Homo sapiens: one gene and its partners. The protein of the gene in region 1 purifies or fractionates together with the protein of each later gene. This does not show direct contact. Each region holds a gene or a part of one and is shown in the gene's direction. Other genes may lie near its edges.

The links.
Region 2: the proteins of MYLK2 (region 1) and RCC1 purify together in Homo sapiens (affinity purification with mass spectrometry; one large-scale study listed by BioGRID and IntAct). This does not show direct contact.
Region 3: the proteins of MYLK2 (region 1) and RALY purify together in Homo sapiens (affinity purification with mass spectrometry; one large-scale study listed by BioGRID and IntAct). This does not show direct contact.
Region 4: the proteins of MYLK2 (region 1) and TES purify together in Homo sapiens (affinity purification with mass spectrometry; one large-scale study listed by BioGRID and IntAct). This does not show direct contact.

Annotation. Positions count from the first base shown.
Region 1 is NC_000020.11:31,825,856-31,829,355, forward strand, and holds part of MYLK2 (myosin light chain kinase 2, skeletal/cardiac muscle), read left to right. Parts: intron 1-749; coding exon 750-859; intron 860-941; coding exon 942-1,083; intron 1,084-3,500. UniProt on the Homo sapiens protein: Implicated in the level of global muscle contraction and cardiac function. Phosphorylates a specific serine in the N-terminus of a myosin light chain.
Region 2 is NC_000001.11:28,533,543-28,537,042, forward strand, and holds part of RCC1 (regulator of chromosome condensation), read left to right. Parts: intron 1-1,507; coding exon 1,508-1,604; intron 1,605-1,715; coding exon 1,716-1,838; intron 1,839-2,328; coding exon 2,329-2,484; intron 2,485-2,719; coding exon 2,720-2,839; intron 2,840-3,204; coding exon 3,205-3,357; intron 3,358-3,500. UniProt on the Homo sapiens protein: Guanine-nucleotide releasing factor that promotes the exchange of Ran-bound GDP by GTP, and thereby plays an important role in RAN-mediated functions in nuclear import and mitosis.
Region 3 is NC_000020.11:34,073,911-34,077,410, forward strand, and holds part of RALY (RNA-binding protein Raly), read left to right. Parts: intron 1-1,963; coding exon 1,964-2,130; intron 2,131-2,791; coding exon 2,792-2,905; intron 2,906-3,117; coding exon 3,118-3,335; intron 3,336-3,500. UniProt on the Homo sapiens protein: RNA-binding protein that acts as a transcriptional cofactor for cholesterol biosynthetic genes in the liver. Binds the lipid-responsive non-coding RNA LeXis and is required for LeXis-mediated effect on cholesterogenesis.
Region 4 is NC_000007.14:116,217,039-116,220,538, forward strand, and holds part of TES (testin), read left to right. Parts: intron 1-3,500. UniProt on the Homo sapiens protein: Scaffold protein that may play a role in cell adhesion, cell spreading and in the reorganization of the actin cytoskeleton. Plays a role in the regulation of cell proliferation. May act as a tumor suppressor. Inhibits tumor cell growth.

The DNA of each region.
Region 1 (3,500 bases):
ATCAGCCTACCGATGTGACAGCTGGCTTGCGACTTTCTGAAAGTGACAAATAATGGTGTCTTAAACTAGGAAGGCAGTGGTGGAGGAGGTGCGAATGATTGGATGTATAATCTAGCTTGAAGGTAGATGATGCTGAAGAGTTGGGTCGGAGGTGGGGTGTGAGGGCGCGAGAGTAAGGGAAGAACTTAGGATGGCTCGTAACTTTTTGTCCTGCACCCTTGGGTGAAGCGTGGGGGTACTTTTGCTGCCAGGCAAGCCGAGAGCAACTCAATTGTGGGGAAGGGACGATGTCTAAGGTCTAATTTTGGACATGATAGATTTGAGATGTCTATTAGACAACTAAGGCAAGTAGACAGTTGGAGATATTGGAGTCTAGAATTCAATGGAGTGCTCAGAGGTTGAGATGTATATTTGGAAATTGATGACTTTGGATAAAATGTAAAGTCATGAGACTTTATGCAGATGCCCAGGGAGAGAGCAGAGAGAGGGAAGCGGTGAGGGGGGAGGATGGAGATCTTGGCATGTCAGTACTCAGGAGAAGAGCCGGCAAAAGGAAGATGTCCCAGCAGGCATGACTTGGGAGTGGTGAGGACCACAGATGTGGGGGTGGGGGAGAGAGGAGAGGCAAGGAGGAGGCTGAGCAGTGATCTGGGCAAGGCTAGCAGGCCTGTTCAAGGGTGCGGGTATGGAGGGTGGGTGGCAGGGAGTGATGGTGCCCAGCTGGTACCCTTGACTTCCCTGGTCCCCAGGAAATGGTGTTGCTGGAGATTGAGGTCATGAACCAGCTGAACCACCGCAATCTGATCCAGCTGTATGCAGCCATCGAGACTCCGCATGAGATCGTCCTGTTCATGGAGTAGTGAGTGCCCGAAGTAGTGGTAGGGGCTGGGTGGGGGTACCACCAGGCACGGAGCAAGCCGTGGAGGGGTCTGTGCACACAGCATCGAGGGCGGAGAGCTCTTCGAGAGGATTGTGGATGAGGACTACCATCTGACCGAGGTGGACACCATGGTGTTTGTCAGGCAGATCTGTGACGGGATCCTCTTCATGCACAAGATGAGGGTTTTGCACCTGGACCTCAAGGTACCAGACTGGGGCCTCCTGGGAAGGGTCAGGGGCAGCCTCCGACCCCCTGAGATCAGTGCTGTCACCAGCCATCCCTCTGCCCTCCCATCCCTCCATCTCTTCCTTCATCCATCCTTCCCTTCATAGATTCAGAAAGGGTTTATGGAATACTTACCAAGTGCCAGGAGCCGGGGGCACAGCAAAGAGAGAGAGGGGGGGAAAAAAAAAAGACGTGGTACCAGCTTTCATGGAACTTCTAGTCTAGTACTAAGTATTTGTTGAAAGGGCCTTTTGCAGTCCTGTGAGCCCCAAGCTCAGTGTGTCACACAGACAAGTGGCTAATAAGTGTTGCAATAGCACCTGCCTCAGCCTTGGCCCATGATAGGTACTAGGAGTGTCTGATCATTTATTCAAAAGCAACAAATATTTCTTGAGGGCCTACTTTATGCCAGGCAATGCTCTAGGTGGTGGAGATCCTGTGGTGAACCAAACAGATAAAAATCCCTGCATTCTTGGAGCTCTCAAATAAGTATAGTGTCAGCGTGGCAATGTGCATGAGGTAGGCGCTAACAACAATGTTTCGTGAAAGAATATTGATATCCTTCTTCTTTTTTTTGAGATAGAGTCTCACTCTGTTGCCCAGGCTGGAGTGCAGTGGCGCTATCTTGGCTCACTGCAACCTCCGCCTCCTGGGTTCAAGCGATTCTCCTGCCTCAGCCTCCCGAGTAGCTGGGATTACAGACACCTGCCACCACACCCAGCTAATTTTTGCAGTTTTAGTAGAGACAGGGTTTCACCATGTTGGCCAGGCTGATCTTGAACTCCAGACCTCAAGTGATCCGCCCACCTCGGCCTCCCAAAGTGCTGGGATTACAGACATGAGCCACTGTTCCCGGCCTGATATCCCTCTTCTGACCTTGCTCACTACCATGCACATGGTAGGTCAGGAAGAGCAGATCTGCTTTTTTTTTTTTTTTTTTTTTGAGACAGAAAGTCTTGGTCTGTTGGCCAGGCTGGAGTGCAGTGGTGTGATCTTGGCTTACTGCAACCTCTGTCTCCTGGGCTCAAGCAATTCTTTTGCCTCAGCCTCCCGAGTAGCTGGGATTACAGGCGTGTGCCACCATGCCCGGCTAATTTTTGTATTTTTAGTGGAGACGGGGTTTCGCCATGCTGGTCAGGCTGGTCTTGAACTCCTGACCTCAGGTGATCTGCCTGCCTCAGCCTCCCAAAGTGCTGGGATTACATGTGTGAGCCACCGTGCCTGGCCACAGATAGGTGTATACATTGCAGCAACTCCAGTCAGTTGTCCGTAGCTGTCCGGAGCTGAGTGTGGAGCTCTGGGTGTGGAGCAGGGAAGGGCAGCAGGAGTGCAGGGGGTTGGCAGTCCTCATGGCAGGTGTTAATGCTGTGCGTTAAGTGGCGGGACATGGAATCTTAATGTGGAGGCGCGTGAGCACCCATCAGCAAAGTGGATGGTACTTTCATTCATTCATTCCATAAGCATATGCTGGGTACTTTCCTTAATTCATTCGATAAGCACGTGCTGGGTACCTGCTCCTGGAAGGCCCCGTGCTAGGCATAGGGACTGTGAAGGAAATGGTCCCTGTCTCATGGAGCCTCCAGGGGAAACAGACATTCATAAAACAATTCCTAACTAAATAGGTCATTTTAAGCCATGAAAAGTGTTTGAGAAAATACACGAGAGTAATGCGGAATCGCACTGGGTGAAATTGAAGTCAGCACGGGTCTGAAGCAGGCAGGGAGATGCTGTTGCCGCCTCTAACACCTGTCCCAGTTTTGCTCTGTGCCCGACACTGTCTGAGTGAGGGTGCCATCTTCCCAACAGTCCCCTGGGTTAGGTGTGTTAATATCACTGCCACTGACAGAGGAGGACACAAACAGGGTGAGGAGGTGGGTTTCAGTGGGGCCAGAGTGGATGCAGGGAATTTAGAGGCTGATGGAGTAAGTAAGCCAGGAGAGAGATGCCAGGGGCTTGAGCCAGAGTGGCAGTGGGAGAGGGGAGGGAAAGGGGCCAGATGGAGGATACATTTTGGAAATAGAGCCAATCTGATGTGCTGAGGGTTTGCATGTGTGAGGGTTAGGAAAAGAAAGGATCAAGGGTGAGTCCTGAGTTACTGGACAGATGGTGGCCCCTTCACTGAGCTGGGGGCAGTTGGTGCCTGCATGATGACATTGGAAGACTGCCTTTCCCTAGTGAAGGCTAATTTCTTTGGGGCAGAATAGGGTCCCCCAATTAAAATGCAGTGCTCTGGGAAGAAGCTCAGTCGTGAGCCTCTGTATCCTAAAATGTGTTTTTTTCAGGATAATAATACGTTTTTTGTCAAAAAAAGTGTTTCACGGTCAAGTAGGTTGAGTGCACCCCAGCCCACAGGCCATGTCCTGGGTCTCTTGGCTGCAGGGCTTCTGAGGGCCTC
Region 2 (3,500 bases), on another chromosome or scaffold:
CTGATCACCTGAGGGGTCGGGAGTTCGAGACCGGCCTGACCAACATGGAGAAACCCTGTCTCTATTAAAATTACAAAATTAGCTGGACATGGTGGTGCATGCCTGTAATCCCAGCTACTCGGGAGGCTGAGGCAGGAGAATTGTTTGAACCTGGGAGGCGGAGGTTGCAGTGAGCCGAGATCGCGCCATTGCACTCCAGCCTGGGCAACAAGAGCGAAACTCTGTCTCAAAAAAAAAAAAAAAAAAAAAAAAAGGAAGTAATCAGAATATCAGAATTATATTTTTTTCTTTTCTTTTCTTTTCTTTTTTTTTTTTTTTTTTTTTTTTTTTTTTTTTTTTTTTTTTTTTTTTTTGAGACAGAGTCTTGCTCTATCACCCAGGTTGGAGTGCAATGACACAATCTCGGCTCAGTGCAACCTCTGCCTCTCGGGCTCAAGCAATTCTCCTTCCTCAGCCTCCCGAGTAGCTGGGATTACAGGCATGCGCCACCACACCTGGTTAATTTTTGTATTTTTAGTAGAGACGGGGTTTCACCATGTTGGCCAGGCTGGTTGTGAATTTCTGATCTCAGGTGATCCGCCCGTCTGGGCCTCCCAGAGTGCTGGATTGCAGGCTTGAGCCGCCACGTCTGGCCTCTTTTCTTTTTTCTTTGTTTTGAGACGGAGTCTCGCTTTGTCGCCCAGGCTGGAGTGCAGTGGCGCGATCTCGGCTCACTGCAAGCTCTGCCTCCCTGATTCACGCCATTCTCCTGCCTCTGTCTCCCGAGTAGCTGGGACTACAGGCGCCCGCTACAACGCCCGGCTAATTTTTTGTATTTTTTGGTAGAGACGGCATTTCACCGTGTTAGCCGGAATGGTCTCGATCTCCTGACCTCGTGATCGCCCGCCTTGGCCTCCCAAAGTGCTGGGATTACAGGCATGAGCCACCGCGCCCGGCCTCTTTTCTTTTTTAATTAGAGACGAGATCCTGCTCTGTCACCCAGGCCAGAGTGCAATGGCATCGTCTTAGCTCATTACAGCCTCAACTTCCTGGGCTCAGGTGATTTCTTCCACCTCAGCCTCGCAAGTAGCTGGTACTAGAGGCTTGTGCCACCACGCCCAGCTAATTTTTGTATTTTTTGTAGGGACGGGGTTTCACCGTGTTGCCCAAGCTGGTCCTGAGCTCAAGCGATCTGCCCACCTGGGCCTACCAAAGTGCTAGGATTACTGGCATGAATTACCATGCCTGGCCCAGAATAGTATATTGAGTGCCCATTTACTTGCCACACAGTTTCAATGATTATCAGCTTGTGGCCAGACTTGTTTATCTCTATTTGCATCCGCTCTCTGACTCCTTGATTATTTTAATGCAAGTCGCAGACCATAAATGATTTCATTCATAAGTATTTGAGTATGTGGCCTGGCTCCTGCCCACTTCTCCATCCCCATCTGGTGCCACTGCCCTTCTGGATTTCACTGGCACGGGGCAGGCAGGACTGGCTGATAAGTGCCCTGTCCCTCCCTTCTAGGACAATAACGGTGTGATTGGACTGTTGGAGCCCATGAAGAAGAGCATGGTGCCTGTGCAGGTGCAGCTGGATGTGCCTGTGGTAAAGGTGGCCTCAGGTGGGTCTGGGGGCACTTGCTCAGGGCAGGAGTTGGAGGACCTTGTTCTGGGGCTGGCCTAGCCTTGGGCCTTACAGTTGTGGCCTGCATCCCTTACCTTTTCATCCTTAGGAAACGACCACTTGGTGATGCTGACAGCTGATGGTGACCTCTACACCTTGGGCTGCGGGGAACAGGGCCAGCTAGGCCGTGTGCCTGAGTTATTTGCCAACCGTGGTGGCCGGCAAGGCCTCGGTAAGTGGCCTTGGTACCTCCAGCAGGGCAAATTGGCAGGCCACCCCCACAGTGAAGGCCAAAGGCAGGAAGGATTTGCTGTGGTCAGGCTTGCATCAGATGGGCTTGTGGTGTTGGTTAGGACTTTGGAGACAGACTGCTCTGGTAGTTTTGCCACCTACTGTCTATGGGACTCTGAACATAGTTTCTTCATCACTAAGTCTACCTACCTGTAAACCTACTTCATTAGGTTGCTGTGAAGTTAAATGAGTTAATGAGAAGAATATCAGGCAGATGGTAAGTTCCACGTAAATGATACCCGTAATGACTGTGGGAATCTGAGCAAGGCACTTGTATTCTCTTGATCTCAGTTTCCTTTTCTATAAAATAGGGATAAGAGTCCCTACTTAGCCTCTCAAGGGCTTTTATAATGGAGGAGAATTAAACTCGGGGCAGAGAGAAGCCATGTGTGTCTGTCTGTCACTGACCGTGGCTTTCCCTTTGCCTGCAGAACGACTCCTGGTCCCCAAGTGTGTGATGCTGAAATCCAGGGGAAGCCGGGGCCACGTGAGATTCCAGGATGCCTTTTGTGGTGCCTATTTCACCTTTGCCATCTCCCATGAGGGCCACGTGTACGGCTTCGGCCTCTCCAACTACCATCAGCTTGGTGAGCCCCGAGCCCAGCTTCAGGCATGACCCAGTGGCCTGCGTTCCTGTCCTGGCTCTGCCACTCATTCATTGTGCATCCTTTGCGGGGTCGTCTAACCCCTCCAAGCCAGTTTTGTCATCTGTAAAGTGAGAATGTCCATATCCTGATGGGAGGTGGCCTCACTGTGGGAGGAGATTGAGAAGGGCAGCTCTCAGAACACCTTCACCCCTGATGGCTCCGGCCTTTCCCCCAGGAACTCCGGGCACAGAATCTTGCTTCATACCCCAGAACCTAACATCCTTCAAGAATTCCACCAAGTCCTGGGTGGGCTTCTCTGGTGGCCAGCACCATACAGTCTGCATGGATTCGGAAGGTAGGGCCTTTACGTCCTTCTCTAGTTTGGGGGTGGAGTGTTCCCTGGCCTAGGCCTAGCCAGATTCCTGAGACCATGGTCCTTGGAGCCTGGGTCTGTTCCATGGGTTGTACCATACATGGGTCCATGAGAGTCACTCTCATCCTCCTAGAGTCCTGGTGTTCTTCCAAGTGTGAGTTCAATGGGGGCCCATGTAGATTCTCCTAGGCCTCCTCCAAAACTGGGAAGAGACACTGCAGATCTCCTTCTGATCGCTCTGGGAGCAGGGACACACTCCCATGGACAGGTGGACTCACCTAGCCTGCCACCCATTTTGCCTGTAGCACGCCCTCTGCTATTGCTCATCTCTCTCCCTCCTCCCATAGGAAAAGCATACAGCCTGGGCCGGGCTGAGTATGGGCGGCTGGGCCTTGGAGAGGGTGCTGAGGAGAAGAGCATACCCACCCTCATCTCCAGGCTGCCTGCTGTCTCCTCGGTGGCTTGTGGGGCCTCTGTGGGGTATGCTGTGACCAAGGATGGTGAGTGGGGCTGCCTACACTCTGTCTAGTTGGGACCTGGGGGTCATGGTTCTTACCCAATTCCCCAATAGGCTGTGATGTCCACTCTCGGGGGAGCCGAGGTACAGAGAGCAGTGTTTGTGATGGCACTTTGTTCCTGCTTC
Region 3 (3,500 bases), 2.2 Mb from region 1:
GAAGGGTCTTGAGAGATTGTTGGTGCAGCCCACTGAGTTCTCCAAATGAGAACCAAAACCCAGAGGTTTGCCTGGGGTTGCTCCACCAGTCGGTAGCAGAGCTGAGACTGGGGTCCTGTGCTGCAGGTGCTCAGGCCAGAGCTCCTACCACCATACAACACTGTCTGCCATGCTAACTGCCCTTTTTCCTTCTTGTCCTTGGGTGAGGCTCAAGGAGACCGTACAGCCAAGAGCTATGTAAGTGTGGCTAGTTGGAATACACAACAGGGTACAGCGCTGGTTGCAGGGAGTTTGAGCCCTTCCCTCTGTGAGGTGCCCAAGCAGCTGGTAGGAGCCCCAGAGCTCAGTCTAAGCTTCTTGGGTTTATATTTAGAGACAAGAGGCCAGCAGCCATTTGGAAGTCTAATTAGTCCCTGGCGGGCTGTGGTCTACCCTGCACTCCCAAGCCCTACCCAGACTCCAGCCCAGAGGCTGTGGGCTCCCACTACAACAGCACTAGCCACATTCTTGAGTAGAAATCATGGTAGATACTAACTCAAATCTCTCCTCCTCCCTGCTTCTCTCCCTCTGTCCAGCTTAGCCCACCCCAGGCAGCCCAAGAAGAACAGTGCCTCTCTGAGCATGAGTCGTCCGCCCCCATCCCCACCCCGCCCCTGTGAGTCGTTTCAGGAGACAGTGTGGTGTAGTGGAAAGTGTCTTAGCCTGGGGGTCAGAAGATTTAGATGCTAATCTCAGCTCTGCCACTGAATGGATTATGTGATCTTGGGCAAATTCCCTTCCCAGTTTGTGAAATGGGCTTGCACCAAGTGATCTCTCCAGGCTCCTCCAGCTCTGGGATTCTGTGGTTCAGTGATTCTGACCAAGGCCAGAGCCGTTCCCTCCCCTTGGGGGCAGAAATGCAGGGTCTGGGATCGGATCCATTCCCAGAGACTCTCCATCTGCAGCCATCACCACCTCCAGGAAGGGGCTCCCTGAACAAAGGAGCCCCAAGGAATGGGGCTTTTGCCCAGTGATGGCAGGTTTCCTGGCCGTTGTCAGGAAAATTGACCCAAAGTTTACCCCCTGGGCTGCGATTCCCTGAAAAAGGTGGCAGCAACAGATGTCAGAGAGACCACTTCTCAGCCTACTGAGTTTCTGCCTGGTCAGCTGGAAAGGAAGCCCTCCTAGAGAGGGCTTGGAGATGACTTTGGTTGGGGGCAGTGCACAGCCTGGGAGCCCTGGGGGGGTCTGATTGAGCTGCCCAACCTTGATACTCTACCAAGCCCCTGGCCTTTGTCTCTGGAATGGAGCACGAAGGATGTGGTGATTAAGGAGGTCAAGTAAGGAAAGGGCTTAGAGTTCAGTCTTATGCCTCTGAGGTCATGGGTTCGTGAATTGAGGGTCTCAGTACCCTGACCTTTCATCTATTACACGTTCTAAAGTGTGTTTTTAACCGAATTCTTTCATGCTGTGCCCTTGGGTGGACACTGAATGTGGATAGCCATCCTCATTTGGCATATGGGGAAACTGAGGCTCAGGTAGGCTCAGTTGACCCCCACTCCCATACCTCTCTATTCCTAGCTGGGGATTTGTGCTGCTTTGAGATTTGCAAACTCTGAGCAGAGGTTGGGGTGGCAGTTGACCAAGCAGAAGCCAGGTCATGTAATAGAGCAGGCCTGGGTGCCAGGGGACCTAGGGATGTCTCCTCTTTTGAATGGGGTATAACTGCTACCACCTGATGCCTTGCCTGCCCTTACTGGGCCTGGATGGTTGGAGAGGTTGTAGTGAGGTAGTGAGGATCCCAACAGCCATCAGGGTCCGGCAAGCCCTTCCTCTTCACTCCAGGGCTTGCTAGGAGCCAGCAGAGGTGTGTAGTGCAGGCCTCCCAGCCCCTCACCAGCCACACACGTTTGTAGCCGGAGCTGCAATACCGCCCTGGTGGCCACAAGCCATGCTGCAGCCTCTGGCCCATCTGCCCTCACAGGCTCTTCGACTACCGGGGCCGTCTGTCGCCCGTGCCAGTGCCCAGGGCGGTCCCTGTGAAGCGACCCCGGGTCACAGTCCCTTTGGTCCGGCGTGTCAAAACTAACGTACCTGTCAAGCTCTTTGCCCGCTCCACAGCTGTCACCACCAGCTCAGCCAAGATCAAGTGTGAGTGACTGTATCATATTCCTAAGTAATTTGCATTTTTATCATTAGCAAAATAATAGAATCACATTTTTTACATTGGAACATAGATAAAACAACAAGTCTTCCACAGTTCTGCTGCTCTAACACAGCCAAGTATTTTCATGCATTTCTAAGAGGAAACAGCTGATGTTTTAGGAGGAGGGGTTGTGTTGGGCACAGAGAGTCCAGTGCTGGATATGGTGCCCAGTGAAGAAATGGTGCCATCTTTCCTCTAGTAAGGATAAGGACAGGTCTACCCAGGCCCATTACTCCACATTCACTCTGGTACACACATGCTGCTTAACTAATCACCCAGGAATTCAGATTCCAAAAGACACATGTTCTTGCTCAGGTGCACACAGAAGAGCACACCACACATACACACCTGTGCTCCTGTCTGTCTTTGGTCCCTTTCAGAGTTGAGAGATCAGGAGAAAAGATAGCCAGGTTCAGAAGTGTGTGCTGTCACTGTAGGGATGGACGCCAGGTAGTCTAAGGAGGAGACCTTTTTCCTAAGCAGGGAAAAAACAAAACAAAACAAAAAATAACTGCTTTCCTGGTTGAAAGAACAGGGCTGAGGTTTTGTGCTAGTGTCAAGCCTCCAGCCCCCTAGGTGACAGCCCTGTCCCCCCTCCACTCCCAGTAAAGAGCAGTGAGCTGCAGGCCATCAAGACGGAGCTGACACAGATCAAGTCCAATATCGATGCCCTGCTGAGCCGCTTGGAGCAGATCGCTGCGGAGCAAAAGGCCAATCCAGGTCAGCCTCTGAGGATTCTCACCCACCTCCATGACCAGGGCACAGGGCAGAGCATGGGGAAATAGTACATGGGAGAGAGGAGCTAGGGTGGCCCTGCAGATCCTGGACCACCTGCACTCACCATGCTGAGGCCAGCTTCCGCTAAGGTGCTGCCCTAGACAGCTACCCCAGGCTGAGTTTTATTCTCCCCTCCTCCACCCCTTCCCCTCAAGATGGCAAGAAGAAGGGTGATGGAGGTGGCGCCGGCGGCGGCGGCGGTGGTGGTGGCAGCGGTGGCGGTGGCAGTGGTGGTGGCGGTGGCGGTGGCAGCAGCCGGCCACCAGCCCCCCAAGAGAACACAACTTCTGAGGCAGGCCTGCCCCAGGGGGAAGCACGGACCCGAGACGACGGCGATGAGGAAGGGCTCCTGACACACAGCGAGGAAGAGCTGGTGAGGGCCTGGCCAGGGGCACGACTGGGACTCGACTGTGCTCCTACTCTCAGGAGGCCAACAGGGGAATGGGCAGCCTGAGCTGGTTGCCCCCACTGTGAACTTCCTGTTCTCTCCTTCCCAGGGGTTCTGGTCCTGGGGGAAAGAGGGAAGAATGAGCAGGGG
Region 4 (3,500 bases), on another chromosome or scaffold:
CTTAAGCTTGTATCATAGAATTATGCTATTGCAAGTGTTGATAGAGCAATGTAAATATTGAAAGTAAGCACAACTGGAATTATACCCGTCAGTGAACTCTTGATAGGTTAGCAGTACGCTATGTTTCTAACACAGACAGTGAGCAATTTTGATGGTGATCCCTGGGCTTGATTCTTGGTTTTGCAAACTTTGTAATTAGGGATTCTTATTTCATTTGTCTTAAGTAATAGCAAATGTAAAAGATGGGAAAATGAGAAAGCAGCTTTTATGTATTAGAATGTGAAAAAGATTATGAATGCATAAAGCTATACAAATAGACTTACACCTATAATATACACAAACTATAAGTCTTCTCCCTGCCTACAAATGCCTTACAAAAGAGTCATTCTTGGATTTCCTGTTTGCAGTCATAGCTAATTTTTGTTTGGTAACTACTGCCATGGTAACCAAAATTATGATTTTAAAAGAATTGTTTATTAAATCATTAATATACAGGAAATTATTTTACTTTTTACAAGGTGGTGGTATCCAGAGAAATTATATTATTAATTATGAAATCAACTTTTTCTAGGAGAGGAAGATAAGGAAACAAAAGACTAATCAAAAACATTGCAAAACTGCAGATTTTCAGGATTTTAAAGAAAAATAATTTGGTAATTGATAACTTCACTACTGTTCTTTGAGTAAATATCCATGTTTAAAATTTGCCTCAAGCACTATTAGAGGATTAAATTTAGAGGTTATGCTTTTCAACTGCCCAACTACAATCTTTGACTCTCCTACAAAAGAGCTGCCATTTAGCATGGTTTTGTCAATTTTCAGTTCTAAGTGCCCTGTCTACCTAACATTCTAGTTAGATAATGGGGAATTAGAGCGATAAGGATATGCATGACTATAATTTTCTAAGTATCACTGTATTTATTTTGGTCAAATTCAAAAAAGTAAAAAAGCATAGTTTAGAATTGCCAATTTCTCTGTTCCTTAGTCTGTTAGAATGGTGGGGAGTCGGCTCAGATTTGAGCATGGCTTAAAGTGGGAGAGCGTTATTAGAAGCCAGCCTAGTGGGGATTGCTGAGATCTCATCTGCTGAATGACAGCAAAGTTACTACTCTGTAAATATACTTAATCTGAAATGCTGAATTATCCTCAAACCATGAGTGATTCAGCTTGTGTTTATCATTGTGACATTCTGGCCACTGTGAAAAGCTGTAAACAGGAGTTTCAGGGTGTTCATTGCATAGCTTATCTGAGCAGCGAGCCCAGCAGAAAAGATGGCATTCAGCCCAGCAGAAATGCCTTGATAAGGAGTCCATTAATGCATCTCTAGCCACAATGAACTTTTCCCTTGCTTTGTTTGATGATAAAGTGATATCATGTTTCATTGAAAAATGACCATGTAGATGTTAGGTGGATTTTTGTTTTTATATGACCACAACGTGACAGTCTTAACAGAATGAGTCACAAAGTAAGGATCAAGGATCTGATTTTTCCTTTATGAGATACTGGCCTACAATAAAAATAACTGGGGGTTAAAAAAATTACCCTTTGTTTTTCGTAGAGAATATTAAAAGTGCAGTTTAGATTTAAAACTACAGACTCTAAACTCCATATCTATCAGTATCACCTCTTGAGCAAAATACCGATGTCACCTTTGATAGATTTTTTTTTAAAAAAGGAAGGAAGATGAGTGAGCAAAACAGATGTGTAAGTTAACTACAGTGCTGGATAGAATGACATAAGTGCTATAATACAATTTCTTATCTGGGATGAGGAACCTTTTTATAAACAAAAATTAATCATTGGTTGATATTTTTAAAAACACAATAAAAATTTATTACTTAAAAGACAAATACAGGGCCAATTAAAAAAATTATTAAATGCAAGAGACACAAAATTACTTTAAGTATATAGTAGTTCCTAATTGCCTACTGTCAGTTTCTCTGCCTATCTCATCACAGACTAGTGACTTACACTTTGTGAACTGCCACTTTGAGTAGCACAGCAATAATAGAAATACAAACAACTGTTATGAAGTCTTAGAAGCAGAAGTAACTAACTTTAATTGTGTGGGTTGCGATTATTTTATCAAGGAAACACCTCCTATAGAATAAAGAAGCTTTCATTAGGCAAAGAAAGCATTCCATAAAGAGGAAATAGCATGAACCAAAGGTACCTGGCTGTGAAAAGTCAGTAAAACCACCCTTGACATTTTCAGTTTTGTCTCTTCTAAAATAAAGCTAAAGTAGATGAGCTGCAGTAATTTGTAATTTTTCCACAGTACAGGTTTGAATTAAAGAGGTATGTCACTGAGCTAGTATAAGACCCTAGCCCACAGCTGAAGAGTTTCTGATCTCCCTTAACTGTGATGATTATTTAATACATTGTGTCATCTATTGAGAGAGAGGAGGAAATTTCACAGTAGAGTCTAGCTCATTTAGGCTGGTCTGGACTCTGAGCTGTGGACTGGGACCACAATGTTGCCAGGTTTTCATCCTTCTTAGATCAGTGAAGCCAACAGTAAAGGTCATGCCCAACTGCAGGAGCACCTTTTAAGCCTCTTCTTATGCCAAAGCAGTCACATGTCCAGTTCTGAAGTCAAGGAGAGAAGTCCAGTCTAGCAACTATGAGGCTAGGGCAGGGATATGATGTTGAATACTATTACGTGGGAATGAAGGATTGGGACCATTACTTCAGTCTACCACGTGTGCTATAGAGGGACAGTTGAATGTAGGGGCTTGAGGATACTTTTCTGAAGATCTTTCATGTATCAAGAGTATTCTGAGATGATATTCTGTATGGTATCAGACTACACGTTTCAAAGCAGAGTAGTTTTTGGTCATTCTGAAAAACTGTAGAGGAAAGTTAACTTTGCAGTATCCCTTACTTGATATTTAGGGTTTCCTTTTTTTAATCTGGTCACTCTTCTGTTAGCTTTGAAACATAGGCCTCTCCAAATTCATTCCAGCCGGGTCATGTGACTTCCGTGTTAAACGAAGACATGTAAAACTCATTTCTTTGGGAAATGGCAAGTTGCCTAAGGTTTTGAAGGGGAATTACAAAATATTACCTTTTATATACTGCAACAAATGGAAAATATATTCTGTGAACATTCCAATAATATGTGTTAGACTCTATCTTTGGTAATGGAATAGAAGGTTATCCCAAGATAATTGGCAGAATTTAAAGGTAAAAAGAGGCAAGACAGATTTCAGTGGCCTAACTCCACAGCTCTTTTAAGATGTCCCAGGTAAACCAGTAGTGATGTTATTCATTGTTACTTTCTCATGGACCAGATAAAATTAAGCCAGAGGGTAGGATCATCCTGTGGACCACTGTTGCCCACTTTTCTCTAACAGTTAGGGAATTTAAAGGAAGCAGCGCAGACTTTGACTTTTCCAGACATAGATTTGGATCCCACCTTTGATATTTACTCAGTAATTTGGCAACAGTTGCTCCTTGGTTTCAGAGATCTAATCTGCAAAACATGGATAGTACTTCTT